2 linked regions of the Homo sapiens genome follow. The protein of the gene in region 2 interacts with the protein of the main gene of each other region in a biochemical or structural test. Each region holds a gene or a part of one and is shown on either strand. Other genes may lie near its edges.

Region 1 (7,023 bases), on a different chromosome or scaffold from region 2:
TTTGCTTTAAGTTAATACCATATTAGTATTTTAAATTTATAGAGTACCTTTGATTTCAAGATGCTGTATAAACTTTAGTTACTTGATAATAACTTTATTGTGGAATTGCCCCTTTGCTGAAAGGTATAAACATTTCTTACATGGTGATGCACACACTCACACACACACACTCACACACTCATACACACTCTCTCTGAAGAAGAGGAAATATTTAAGCCATGAGATCTCTGCCCACAATTGATATTAAACCTTTCCACATATTATTCTTAAAACCACAATCAGTGAACTGTTTGGTATTTGTCAATGCTAAGAAGGTGGGGCTAATTTAATAATTTGATCCCAAATTTTAGATTCCTCAGGCAGTTGGGGGTTAGAATCTGATTTCATCCATCAAGCTACTTCTGTTCTTTATGACACATTAACATATGATCATTGAAATGGGCTGTATGGTAACACTATCAACTTCAACTACTGTTTCTATAACATTGATTACAAAATGTATAATGTCTATATCATTATACTTATATCTGATACAGGCTTTTCTTTCAATGGTTTGGATAGAAAAATATTCTTTACAGTAAAAACTTTGGGATAATTTTTTATACCATTATTGTTTCTGAAAACCAAAGGCTGGAAAAAGCAGTTTAGTGTAATTTCTAATATTTTAAATTCTTAGGTATGGAGAAGCAGAATAAGATTACTCCTCCAGAACATTTGTTTCAGACCTTTTTATACATTTAATGTTTTTGTATGCTGCTTCTCATGTTATTAATTTCAAAGCCCTTGGCAATAAGGAGGTTAACCTTGTCTATAATGTAAGGAAGTTTAACTTTAAAAATTTCCCTTTAGATATGCTAGCGTCTTAATCTTGTTTCACTACATATTTTATCGATTCAAGGCTTTAAAAATTGTAGCTTAATTCTATTTCACAGGTTTTTAAGTATGCCTATACATCATAATGACTTTATTTATTTATTTTTTGAGTTGGAGTTTCACTCTTGACTGGAGTTGAAGGGCTTGATCTCGGCCCACTGCAACCTCCACCTCCCGGGTTCAAGTGATTCTCCTGCCTCAGCCTCCCGAGTAGGTGGGATTACAGGCGCCCACCACCACGCCTGGCTGGTTTTTTTTGTATTTTTAGTAGAGACGGGTTTTGCCACGTTGGCCAGGCTGGTCTCAAACTCTGGACCTCAGGTGATCCGCCCGCCTTAGCCTTCCAGTGTGCTGGGATTACAGGCATGAGCCACGGCACCCGGCCCATAATGACTTTATATACTAGAGGTGTTAGTGATTTGAATGTCCCCAATTTGTTTTATTTTCTTGGTTTCTGAGGAGGAAGCCAGTGTAGTTGAGCTCCTTCCTTTTCTTTTAAATTCTGTCTTCTAGTCTGACCCTCTTCAGGCAGGCAGTAGAACATGCCAAGGTCCTTTTTGTAGTTTGGTATTCGTAATAAAGTCTGTGTATTTTAGTCATCACTTTTACTTTTTTCTTGTTGGTTGAGCTATTACTATCACAACATACTAACATCTCATTTAACATAACTCAGTTTTAAAGATAAATGAAGGGTCATGCTTAGGCATACAAGATTTTTATTTTAGCCTTTTTTTTTTTTGAGGCAGAATCTCATTCTGTTGCCCACACTGGAGTGCAGTGGCAACAGCGTGCAGTGAGCAATCCCGGCTTACTGCAGCCTTGACCTCCCGGCTCAGGTGATTTTCCCACCTTGGCTTCCCAACTGGCTGGGACTACAGGTCCATGCCACTGTGACTGGCTGATTTTTTTACCTTTTTTTTTTTTTTCCAGTACAGATGGGGTTTCTCCAGGTTGCCCAGGCTGGTCTTGAACTTCTGTGCTCAGGAGATCCTCCTGCCTCAGCCTTCCAAAGTGCTGGGATTACAGGTGTGAGCCACCATGCCTGGCCTATTTGAGCCTTTTTTGGTGAGAGTCTTAAAGACGTAATATGTCCTCCTCTTTTCAAATAGACCATACTTAGTAGAACTTAATGTTTTATTCATGACTCAGTATAATTATGAATGCCCTCGCCCCTAGCAATACTTGCCCATCTTTTAAGGCTCAACTCAAAGATTACTGTTATCCCTAGAACTTTCCCTGACCTGAGTTGAACTGTCCTCTATGACTCTAAGAAGCTCTTCTAGTACCAGACCTAACCCACTGGTAGGCGTTTATTGTTCCTATGCTTTAAGTGCCATGAAGCCAGCATCCTTGTGTGAGTATGGATTAAGACCTTTTTGGCATTTTATTTAATGAATGCTGGAGAGCTATAAATACTTCCGAATAGTTCTGCATGTGTTCTTTATGGCTAATGCATTGGGTATGAGTGGCAAGAGGTGAGGCTCTAGACAGGGACCAACCTAGTTTGGACCTTACTGTAGTTTGCCAAGATGTTCATTTTTTTTAAGGTGGGGGGAACCATTGCAGGATTTTAAGCTTTAATATATTTGCTGTTTAGACACAATCTGGGAGCAGTATGGAGGATGGACTGGAATGGGAACCATGAAGACTGGTTTTAGGATAACTGGTTAAGCAGATTCAACAGCAACCATCGTTCAGATTTTTTTGTTTGAATGTTTATTTCCAAATTTTTTATTACAAATAATTGCTGTAAACATCTTGGTGTAGGTAACTTTGATTTTTTTTTTAAGGATTCTTTTTTTTTAGGATGCTTCCATAAAAATAGTGTTACTGAGTTCAAGTGTGTGGATATTTTTAAGGTTTCATGAGTAATTTTTCCTTTAGGCTGCTTCTTACAAGAGTTGGACCTATTTAGAGCAGCAGTAAATAAAGATGTCCCTTTTTACTATTCTGTTATAAGTATAAGCTAATTGCATTTTACATTTTTTGCTAATTTCATGGCATGTGCCATTTAAACATTCGTGAAGCAGAATATTTTCCTGTCTGTTTACTAATGATATTTATTTTCATTGACTTGTTTGGCCTTGTCCTAGTTATGTTAGAGCCTTAGTGTTTTTCTTATTGATCTACCTGAGACTTACAAATATATTAACCTGTTGTCATATTTGCTACAAACATTTCCATGATGAATTATTTGTCTTTTAATATTGTTCATTGTTTGGACATGTAGAAATGTGTTATCTTAGGAGTCAAAATCTGTCCAACTTTTGTTTTGTTTTTCCTATTCTATACTTGGAAGAACTTATTCTCCAAGAAGTTTGATAAATAAGTACATTATATTTAATGTTTTTAAAAAATGGTTTAATAAACTATTTCCCCTGCAATTGCTATTTAGCCATCTTGTCATTATTTATTAACCAATTCTTCCTTTCCACAGTGATGTAGTATCTTTTCAGTTATATTAGTTATAGAGTCAGATATAGCTCTTGTTCAGTGCCATACTGTTTTTTTTATTGTAGCTTTATAATTTAGTTTAGTATTCTCACTAGGCCAGTTTTTTAAAGAGACGGAGTCTCACTCTGTCACTCAGGCTAGAGTACAGTGGCGTGATCTTGGCTCACTGGAGCCTCTGACCCCTGGGTTCAAGTGATTCTCCTGCCTCAACCTCCCTAGTAGCTGGGATTACAGGTGCATGCCACCACTCCCAGCTAATTTTTTTTTGTATTTTTTTTGGGTGGAGATGGGTTTACACCATGTTGGTCAGATTGGTCTCGAACTCCTGACCTCAAGTGATCTGCCCACCTTGGCCTCCCAATTTCTTTTCATTTGTTTTGGTAGTCTTATTTTTTTCTTCCACATAAATATTAAACTTGTTAAGTTTAATAAGAAGTTTCATTGGGGCCGGGCATGGTGGCTCACGGTTGTAATCCTTGGACTTTGGGGAGGCTGAGGATGGTGGATCATCTAAGGTCAGGAGTTTGAGACCAGCCTGGCCAACATGGTGAAACCCTGTCTCTACTAATAATACAAAAATTAGTTGAGTGTGGTGGCACATACTTGTAATCCTAGCTACTGGGGAGGCTGAGTCACAAGAATCGCTTGAACCTGGGAGGTGGAGGTTGCAGGCGAGATCATGCCACTGCACTCCAGCCTGGGCGACAGAGTGAAACTGTGTCTCCAAAAAAAAAAAAAAAAAAAAAAAAAAGACATTTCATTGGGATTGTCATTAGAATTGCTTTACTTTGGGAAAAAGAAGTATCTAAGTTTATTTAGTTTTCTCACCCAGGAACATGATATGTTTTTTACATTTATTTAAGCTTTGGCCCATATTGTTCAGGATAGCTTTATAATTTTCTTCCTGTGTTTGAATTTAATTTCAGATAATTTATATTTGTGTGATTTACGTTGTGTTTTCTAATCCTAGTTATTGCTTGTATTTAGGAATGCAGTTATATGTATTTTGCTTGATTAGAAGAATTTTGGCTGGGTGTGGTGACTCACGCCTGTTATCCCAGCACTTTGGGAGGCCAAGATGGGAGGATCACTTGAGCCCAGGAGTTCGAGACCAGCCTGGGCAACATAGTGAGACCTCATCTCTATATTTATTTATTTATTATTATTATTTTTTGATACTGAGTTTTGCTCTTGTTGCCCAGGCTGGAGTGCGATGGCGCCATCTCGGCTCACTGCAACCTCTGCCTCCTGGGTTCAAGCGATTCTCCTGCCTCAGCCTCCTGAATAGCTGGGATTATAGGCATGTGCCACCGCGCCCGGCTAATTCTGTATTTTTAGTAGAGATGGGGTTTCTCCATGTTGGTCAGGCTGGTCTCAAACTCCTGACCTCAGGTGATCCGCTTGCCTCGGCCTCCCAAAGTGCTGGGATTACAGGCATGAGCCACCGCACCCAGCTGATGGCTGGTTTTCTAGGTGTCAGTGTTTGGTACTTGTTACAGTTGAATGTTAACACTTAAAATTTTTCTTTTCTCTCGGATTTCTCTCCAACATATAAGTAGTTGAACAAAGTGAGAAATTTTATTTCATTAAAAATTTTTTAAATACGAGCAGTCTTCTGAACAAGAATAGTTTCAGACCAACTCTGTTTTAGAATAGCTTCTGATGGCATTGGCTACCTTTTTTAAAACCACATTTGATATTATATTAAAAAGTGTCAACAGATAATCTGAAGTTTGGCAGTTTGGTTTGGTTTTGTACAAAAATTGGTAGCAGACATAAAGTTTAAATTTTTAAATAAACCTCGATGATTCATTTTTAGGGAGGAATTACCACGTGGATGATTGCAATCATGCAATGTTCTTCCCATTTCTTCCCAAAAAGTTTCTTCCCAAAACATTTTCTCTTACCTCTTTGTAGCCAGTTGTCTTCTTCAATACCGAGAACTTGTCAACCACTGATCTGTTTTCGGTCACTATAATTTTGCCTTTTCTAGGATTTTGAGTAAATGGAATCATACTGTCTGCAGTCTTTTGGGTGAGGCTTCTTTTAGCGTAATGCTTTTGAGATCCATTCATGCTGGGTATCAGTACTTTGTTCCTTTTCATTCCTGAGGAATACTGCATTGTACACCAATTTGTTTATCCATTTATAAATATCTGCAGACATTTGTTGTTTCCAGTTTTTGGCCATTACGAATAAACATTTGAGTACATGGCTCTTTGTGAACATGTTTTTCTTGCCCTTGGGTAAATGAGTGGGATTGTTGCATCATACAGAAAGTATGCATTTTAACTTTTTAAAAATCTGCTGGGCGGATTGCTTGAGCCCAGGAGTTTGAGACCAGCCTGGGCAACATGGCAAAACTCCGTCTCTACAAAAAATACAGAAATTGGTCGGGTGTGGCCTGTGCCTGTAGTATCAGCTACCTGAGAAGCTGATGGAGGATTGATTGGGCCTGGGAAGTTAAGGCTGCGGTGCTGTGCTCACACCACTGCATTCTAGTGTGGGTGACTCTGTCTCAAAAAAAAAAATTTTTTTTTTTTCAAAGTTGTACCATTTTGCATTTCTACCAGCATTGTATGAGTTTCAGTAGTTCCTCATCCTAGTCAGCACTTGATACTGTCTTTGATTTTAGCCATTCTAATTGGTAGGTACAGATATTTCATGGTACTTTAATTTTTACTTCCTTAATAACCTACAGTTTTAAGCACATTTTAATGGACTTATTTATTGTCCATATAATCTTTGGTGAATATCCAAATCTTTTGTTCATGTTTTAAAATTGGATTGTTTTCTTATTGAGTTTTGAGAATTCTTTATGTATTCTGGATATAAGCCTTTTATGAGATATATACTTTGCAAATATTTTCTCCCGGACTGTAGCTCCCCCACCGCCCCCCAAAAGATGTCCCAAAGAGAAGAAGTTTTGAATGCTGATGAAACCTGTTTATCAGTGTTTTTCTTTTGTGGTTCATGTTTTTTGAGTCCTAAGTCTTTTTCTAACCCAGAGTTCTAAAGATTTTCTCTGTGTTTTCTTCTGCATTATTTATAATTTTAACTCATACATTTAAACTTATTTTCAAGTTAATTTTTTAATATGCTGTGAGAAGTAAGTGTCATGATTTTTTTTTCATATGGATATTCTATTTTTGTAGCCCTATTTGTTGAAAATACTTTTGTTTCCTCCATTGAATTGTCTTGGCACCTTGGTAGAAAATCAGTTGACAGGCCAGGTGCGGTTGCTCATGCCTATTCTTTGGGAGGCCGAGGCAGGAGGCTCACATGAGGTCAGGAGTTCTAGACCAGCCTGGCCAACATGGCAAAACCCCGTCTCTACTAAAAATAAAAAATTAGCCAGGTGTGTGGCAGGTGCCTGTCATCCCAGCTACTCGGGAGGCTGAGGCAAGAGAATCACTTGAACCCAGGAGGTGGAGGTTGCAGTGAGCTGAGATTGTGCCACTGCACTCCAGCCTGGGCGACAGAGCGAGATTCTGTCTCAAAACAAACAAACAAACAAATCAGTTGACAGTATACATAGAATTCTATTTCTGGACTCTCCTGTGTTTTCTTTATGATTCTACCCTTTAAGTTTATTTGTTTTAACACTATGCTGTCTTGATTACTATAGCTTTAAAATAAAGCAGCTTTCAAACAAATTGAGTCTTTGATTTAGGATCTTGTAGTGCTTTGGAGCGG
Region 2 (7,023 bases):
CCCAGTAAGAGGTAATGAGGGGCTGGAACTGGAAGAAAACACATTTAAGACACAGTACAGAGGTGGCAGACAAGGTGGGACTTGGCAACTACCTGATGAGATCCAGGAGATGAGGCCAGGAGGCGGGCAGCAAAGATGACGCAGGTTTCTAGCCTTAATAGGCTAGGAGGAGAGTGATGCCATTAGCAATAAGAACTACAGGAGAAGGAGCTGAGTTTGAGGGAACTATTAATTTGGTTCAGAATATGTGCTGTTTGAGTTATGGCAGGATATTTAAGTGGACAGACTGTCGACATAGTTGGAAATTCAGATCTTAAGCTCCCACACAAGGTAGTGGCTGGACATAGTAGATTTGAGTGCTCTTGCTTCAGAGGGCTAGTTTAGGTTGGGGCAGTGATTAAAGCAACCTAGGAAATAAATTATAAAGGAAGAAGAGGTCCTTAAAACCTTGGAGACTGATTATATAAAGGGTGGATCCGTTAATACAGTAGCTATTAAAAAATTATAAGGGGTGGGAAAAAGGGACAAAGAAGAAAAAAGAGGTGAAAGACCTTTGCTGTGTCACCAAACCCTGGGAGGAGAATTTTTTAAAAGAAGAGTACTCAATCCACAGTGAACTAAGGCATGTTTGTTAAACACAATTGACCACCACACAGCGAAGACCCAAATGAGGTTCAAGAGAAGGAATTTTTATGGACCCTGTTAGCACAAGTCAAGGTCCTTCTCCAGTACCACTGGGAAGCTTTGGAGAAGAAAAGGGGGACAGTGGGCCTTGGGTGGAGAAGGGAACTGACCATGAGATCCAGGTGGGGTGAGGAGGTGTGTGAAGTCAGAGTGGGGAAGAATCAGGGTGGCTTACTGGCAGCTTCACCGGGGTCATGCGAGGAGCAGGTTCCACCAGAGTAAGGAGTGAAGTTGTAGAAACACAGGGAAGTCACCATCAGAAAAGAGCAGGAGTCAAGAAACTATGGCCCACAGGTACAAACTACCTGTTTTTATAAATAAAGCTTCATGGTAAATGAATTGTAAATAAAGTTTTGCATATTGTGTGAGGCTGTTTTTGTGCTACAGTGGCAGAGCTGTCTGGCCCTTTATAGAAAAAGTTTATCAGCCACTGGAAAAGAGTTGCAGGATTTGAGGTCTTGGTGTGATGGCCTAGGTTAGAGTCATAGTGAGATTGAAGGAGTAGCTAGACAAGCCAATTGTGTGGCAGAAAGGTAGGGATGGAGATCACTGGGTTAAGGATCCTTGTAGCCAGGACACCATGAGAGTGATTGACAAGAATGCTGAAATCCCCTAAGTGTGTCAGGATGTGGAAGAGTAGAAGGCTAGAGTTATGGAAGAAAGGGTCCCACCTCTACCTGTGCAGCCTCCAGGAGAGTCTGAGGAGGGGGCGGTGAGTGTGAGTAAATGTTGTCAGAATCCCTCCTCCCAGTCTACAAGCCCCAGGGAAAGGAAGCAAGGTGTTTACTGACACCCCCAGGCTTATAAGTACTTCCTGGCTCCATCACCCTCCAGTGAACAGCCCTGGGGAGAAGACAGTACTGGTTTGCAGGTGGGTGGGTGGGGAAAGGGGTCACAGGTGCTTGGTGTTCTGGTAAATGTGCATATGAGAACATGGGGTTGCTTGTGCCCTGTCCGTCAGGGTTCAGAAGAACGTGCAGTGGAAGCAGCTATGGGGAAGTAGCTAGGGAAGGTAGGACTGGTCTGAGGTGGTGAGGAGCAGATGCTGCCAGCTCCACACATCCAGGAGAGCCTGGGTGGTTTGGGCAAAAGTCTCTGGCATCCCTTCTGAGCCTGGGTACCACACTGAAGAGTGAGGACAGTGTGCCATTTTTATCAGGAAACCCTCCAGCTCCCTGAAGACCAAATTCTGATCCTCCTGGGATGGCAGTGAAGAGCCACAGAGATGACTCTGAGGTCCCGTGGCCTTTTCCCACCTGGAGATTGTTTTCGTTACTGCGCTGTTACAGCCTTGGAGGACTGGGGTTCAGTTTCATCCAATCACATTTCTTCTTTTGTCATAGTCATCTAAACGATAGATCTTAGAGACAGGTGGGCAAGGGGTGCACTGGTGAGCCTGACTTAAGGAGAGGTCATCTCGTCCCTTCCCTAGTCCCATCTCCCTTGGTTATTGTTATTTCATGTGATTGTTCTGGTTATTTCAGGTTATTCTGTTTTTGTTTTCAAAACAATAACATATATTTGTTGTTCTGATTTTAAAGGGGTAATTGTTTTGGTAACTAGAAAATTACCTTCTCAACTCCCTTAAATTCTGTCAAAGGGAAAAGTAAGTTAGGTTGCTGGAGAGGCTATGCTGAGGCCTCAGAACCTCTGTATTCCTGGAAGTTCTGCGTGCTTTGCCTCCTGCTCCCCTCTCTGTGTTCCTGTTGGCAGGCCCCTAGGCAGGATTTAGGAGGTAGGCAAGTCACCCTAGCCAAGTCATAAGCCCATGGCTCAATTGCCTTCTCAGCCCTTCAAGGGCTGTTCCACAGGCAGCAAAGGGAGGGGCCTCCACAGGTTCACCACTGCAGCCCTAATTCATTTTCTTTTTCCACTGTCTTATTCTGCAGGGGTATTCCCTCAGCGGATACTACACCCATCCATTTCAAGGCTATGAGCACAGACAGCTCAGGTACCAGCAGCCTGGGCCAGGATCTTCCCCCAGTAGTTTCCTGCTTAAGCAAATAGAATTTCTCAAGGGGCAGCTCCCAGAAGCACCGGTGATTGGAAAGCAGACACCGTCACTGCCACCTTCCCTCCCAGGACTCCGGCCAAGGTTTCCAGTACTACTTGCCTCCAGTACCAGAGGCAGGCAAGTGGACATCAGGGGTGTCCCCAGGGGCGTGCATCTCAGAAGTCAGGGGCTCCAGAGAGGGTTCCAGCATCCTTCACCACGTGGCAGGAGTCTGCCACAGAGAGGTGTTGATTGCCTTTCCTCACATTTCCAGGAACTGAGTATCTACCAAGATCAGGAACAAAGGATCTTAAAGTTCCTGGAAGAGCTTGGGGAAGGGAAGGCCACCACAGCACATGATCTGTCTGGGAAACTTGGGACTCCGAAGAAAGAAATCAATCGAGTTTTATACTCCCTGGCAAAGAAGGGCAAGCTACAGAAAGAGGCAGGAACACCCCCTTTGTGGAAAATCGCGGTCTCCACTCAGGCTTGGAACCAGCACAGCGGAGTGGTAAGACCAGACGGTCATAGCCAAGGAGCCCCAAACTCAGACCCGAGTTTGGAACCGGAAGACAGAAACTCCACATCTGTCTCAGAAGATCTTCTTGAGCCTTTTATTGCAGTCTCAGCTCAGGCTTGGAACCAGCACAGCGGAGTGGTAAGACCAGACAGTCATAGCCAAGGATCCCCAAACTCAGACCCAGGTTTGGAACCTGAAGACAGCAACTCCACATCTGCCTTGGAAGATCCTCTTGAGTTTTTAGACATGGCCGAGATCAAGGAGAAAATCTGCGACTATCTCTTCAATGTGTCTGACTCCTCTGCCCTGAATTTGGCTAAAAATATTGGCCTTACCAAGGCCCGAGATATAAATGCTGTGCTAATTGACATGGAAAGGCAGGGGGATGTCTATAGACAAGGGACAACCCCTCCCATATGGCATTTGACAGACAAGAAGCGAGAGAGGATGCAAATCAAGAGAAATACGAACAGTGTTCCTGAAACCGCTCCAGCTGCAATCCCTGAGACCAAAAGAAACGCAGAGTTCCTCACCTGTAATATACCCACATCAAATGCCTCAAATAACATGGTAACCACAGAAAAAGTGGAGAATGGGCAGGAACCTGTCATAAAGTTAGAAAACAGGCAAGAGGCCAGACCAGAACCAGCAAGACTGAAACCACCTGTTCATTACAATGGCCCCTCAAAAGCAGGGTATGTTGACTTTGAAAATGGCCAGTGGGCCACAGATGACATCCCAGATGACTTGAATAGTATCCGCGCAGCACCAGGTGAGTTTCGAGCCATCATGGAGATGCCCTCCTTCTACAGTCATGGCTTGCCACGGTGTTCACCCTACAAGAAACTGACAGAGTGCCAGCTGAAGAACCCCATCAGCGGGCTGTTAGAATATGCCCAGTTCGCTAGTCAAACCTGTGAGTTCAACATGATAGAGCAGAGTGGACCACCCCATGAACCTCGGTAAGAGACCACCCAGGAACTGTACCTAGGGTTGGGGTCAGGTGCTTTTGCTCCTGACGCAGTCTTGGCTGATTTGTGAGCAGTGCTGTTTGGTGGCGCCTATCTTTTCCTCCTTCCCTTCTGCCTTTTAGCTAAATTCCCCTTGATTGGCCCTTTCTCCAGATATTGAGCAGGGAATATAGACCTTGGACCAGCCAGAATCTTGGCTGAACAAGGGGGAGGTTGACTCTGTTGGCTGTAATGAAGCTTCTTTAGAAATGATTGGTTTTGGCCGTACGCGGTGGCTCATGCCTGTAATCCCAGCACTTTTTGAGGCCGAGGCAGGCATATCACGAGGTCAGGAGTTTGAGACCAGCCTGGCCAACATGGTGAAACCCTGTCTCTACTAAAAATACAAAAATTAGCTGGGCGTGGTGGCGTGCACCTGTAGTCCCAGCTACTCAGGAAGCTGAGACAGGAGAATCACTTGAACCCAGGAGGCAGAGGTTGCAGTGAACTGAGATTGCGCCACTGCACTCCAGCCTGGGCCACAGAGCAAGACTCCATCTCAAAAAAAAAAAAGAAAGAAATGATTGGTCTTGGGGGCCGGGGCGGTGGCTTACGACTGTAATCCCAGCACTTTGGGAGGCCAAGGCAGGCAGATCATGAGGTGAGGAATTCGAGACCAGCCTGGCCAACATGGTGAAACCCCATCTCTACTAAAAATACAAAAATTAGCTGGGGGTGGTGGTGCTTGCCTGTAATCCCAGCTACTCGGGAGGCTGAGGCAGGAGAATCACTTGAACCCAGGAGGTGGAGGTTGTAGTGAGCCGAGATTGGCGCCACTGCACTCCAGCCTGGGCGACAGAGTGAGACTCCATCTTGGAAAAAGAAAGAAAAAAGAAAAACATGATTGATCTCCATGCATCAATATCATGCCTGCCTCCTAAGGCAGAGGTAATGAAGACTTAATTCCCTTCTGTAGGCCTTCCCCTCCTCCCTAAGCCGTTTTCTGAGAGAGGTGCAGGAGCAGGTGGGTTGGGGCAGGCTGCATACACAGTGGGGGTGGGTTGTGCTGCTAAGCAGCAGCAGGTCCACAATCCCCCCTCTGCATAGCTCCTGGGGGGAAAGGATGGAGGAGCGTGTGCACGGCTGCCTGCCTGTTGAAGGTGGTGGTTCTAATTTTATAAACCTCCTCTGCACAGATGGGTAGGCTAGCACTTGCTGCCACTCCTGAGCTGTGAAGTCAGCCTTTACCTCACTCAGATAGCTGGTCAGGCCCTGCACTGTAGGTCCTAATAGGCCAGTGGACAGATTGAGGAAAACAGGAGCTTCTGAAGGGCATAACAGAGAGCAAAACCACTGAAGCTGAGTGGCTGCAGCTGCAGCCAGGGAAAGAGCCAGTAGGATGGGGGAGAATTCCACTGACCTTTATGTTTACCTAGCCTGGTTTCTAGGGGTGTAGATTCCTGGCTAGGGCCCTTATTCCTTGTCTTGACTGTCTTCATGACACCAATTTGGCATTTCAGGAGAGCGGTTAAGAAAAGGAGTTGTGTCTGTCCAAAAGCTGGCAAGGCCAGAGCTGGATTGTTTGGGGTAGAGACTGGATGGCCGTCATTCTCTTTTGCCTCCATCCCTCCTCCCCAGAGTTGGAGGAAAGCAGTGGATTTTGTGGTTAGTCATTCTTTGGACTCACACTAAAAGAAACATTGGTGCCATGTTCAAATATATCAGAAGACCTAGGAAATAAGAAATTTGACCTACTTTTCTAAATGAAATCCCAGACTGAGCAAAGAGCTCACCACATTTGAAAGCTTGAACAAAGGGGGCCTAGGCTAAGTCCAGAGGCCTAGAACAAATGCTTTTTTATTTTCTACATAACAAGGGGAAATTCCTTGTTATGTAGAAAATAGCTGGAGACAAATGGTGCTATAGAGTGACTCATAACAAACTACGGTGATATAGGTCTAGGGACAAAAGCAGGCCACTGATAAGTGGCAGATGCCTGATCCCCCTAGGTAGTGGGGAGTGTGAGACTGGGTTATAAGAAGCCTTCACTATCTTTTAGGACCCTCCCTTGAGGAGGCCAGTCTACCACAATTGCTTTAGAATGAAGGTCTTTTGGTTGCTCACAAGACTATAATGGTAATTTTTGGCTCATCATTTTTGTGTGTGTGGGTTTTATCTTAATTCATTGTTAAAGAGATAGTGGGTTTCCCCTGAGCTAGTTTCCTATCATCTGTGCCTATGTTTGCTTCACTGAGCTATGGGGAAAGAGTCACTGGCTGCTTTGTTTACAAAAAGAAAGGACAGGCTGAGCCTTAAGGAGTAGGAAGGAGTTCCTTGGCCTACCCTTCATCTCCACAAGTGAAAAGCCCCTTAGCGTAGCAGAAAATTCCAGGTTGAAGGTCTCTTTGGAGAAGGCAGAAGGAGTGACCTAGACTCCTGTTCACACATCTAATCACTTTCCGTCAAGATTTAAATTCCAGGTTGTCATCAATGGCCGAGAGTTTCCCCCAGCTGAAGCTGGAAGCAAGAAAGTGGCCAAGCAGGATGCAGCTATGAAAGCCATGACAATTCTGCTAGAGGAAGCCAAAGCCAAGGACAGTGGAAAATCAGAAGAATCATCCCACTATTCCACAGAGAAAGAATCAGAGAAGGTAGGTGTCCTCCTGCCATCTGGGAGGATCAGTTCCCTGTCAGTGTCTGGATTGTAACTGACTCCCTTGAGGCAATCCCAGCCTAAACAACTGACACCATCTCGGAGTCAGCTTCCCACTCTTCCCTCTACCCTATCTCGCCAGCCCACCTTTCCTCCTCTCATACCCAGCTCCTCTGTCTGCTCCTGTCCCAACATAATTGGATTTACAGAATTTCGGACTTGA

The links. The genes of interacting proteins can lie anywhere in the genome.
Region 1: the proteins of ADAR (region 2) and SMURF2 form a complex in vitro, tested with the Homo sapiens proteins (one study listed by BioGRID).

The regions. Positions count from the first base shown.
Region 1 is NC_000017.11:64,652,308-64,659,330, reverse strand, and holds part of SMURF2 (E3 ubiquitin-protein ligase SMURF2), read left to right. Parts: intron 1-7,023. UniProt on the Homo sapiens protein: E3 ubiquitin-protein ligase which accepts ubiquitin from an E2 ubiquitin-conjugating enzyme in the form of a thioester and then directly transfers the ubiquitin to targeted substrates.
Region 2 is NC_000001.11:154,598,177-154,605,199, reverse strand, and holds part of ADAR (double-stranded RNA-specific adenosine deaminase), read left to right. Parts: intron 1-2,573; coding exon 2,574-4,159; intron 4,160-6,614; coding exon 6,615-6,798; intron 6,799-7,023. UniProt on the Homo sapiens protein: Catalyzes the hydrolytic deamination of adenosine to inosine in double-stranded RNA (dsRNA) referred to as A-to-I RNA editing.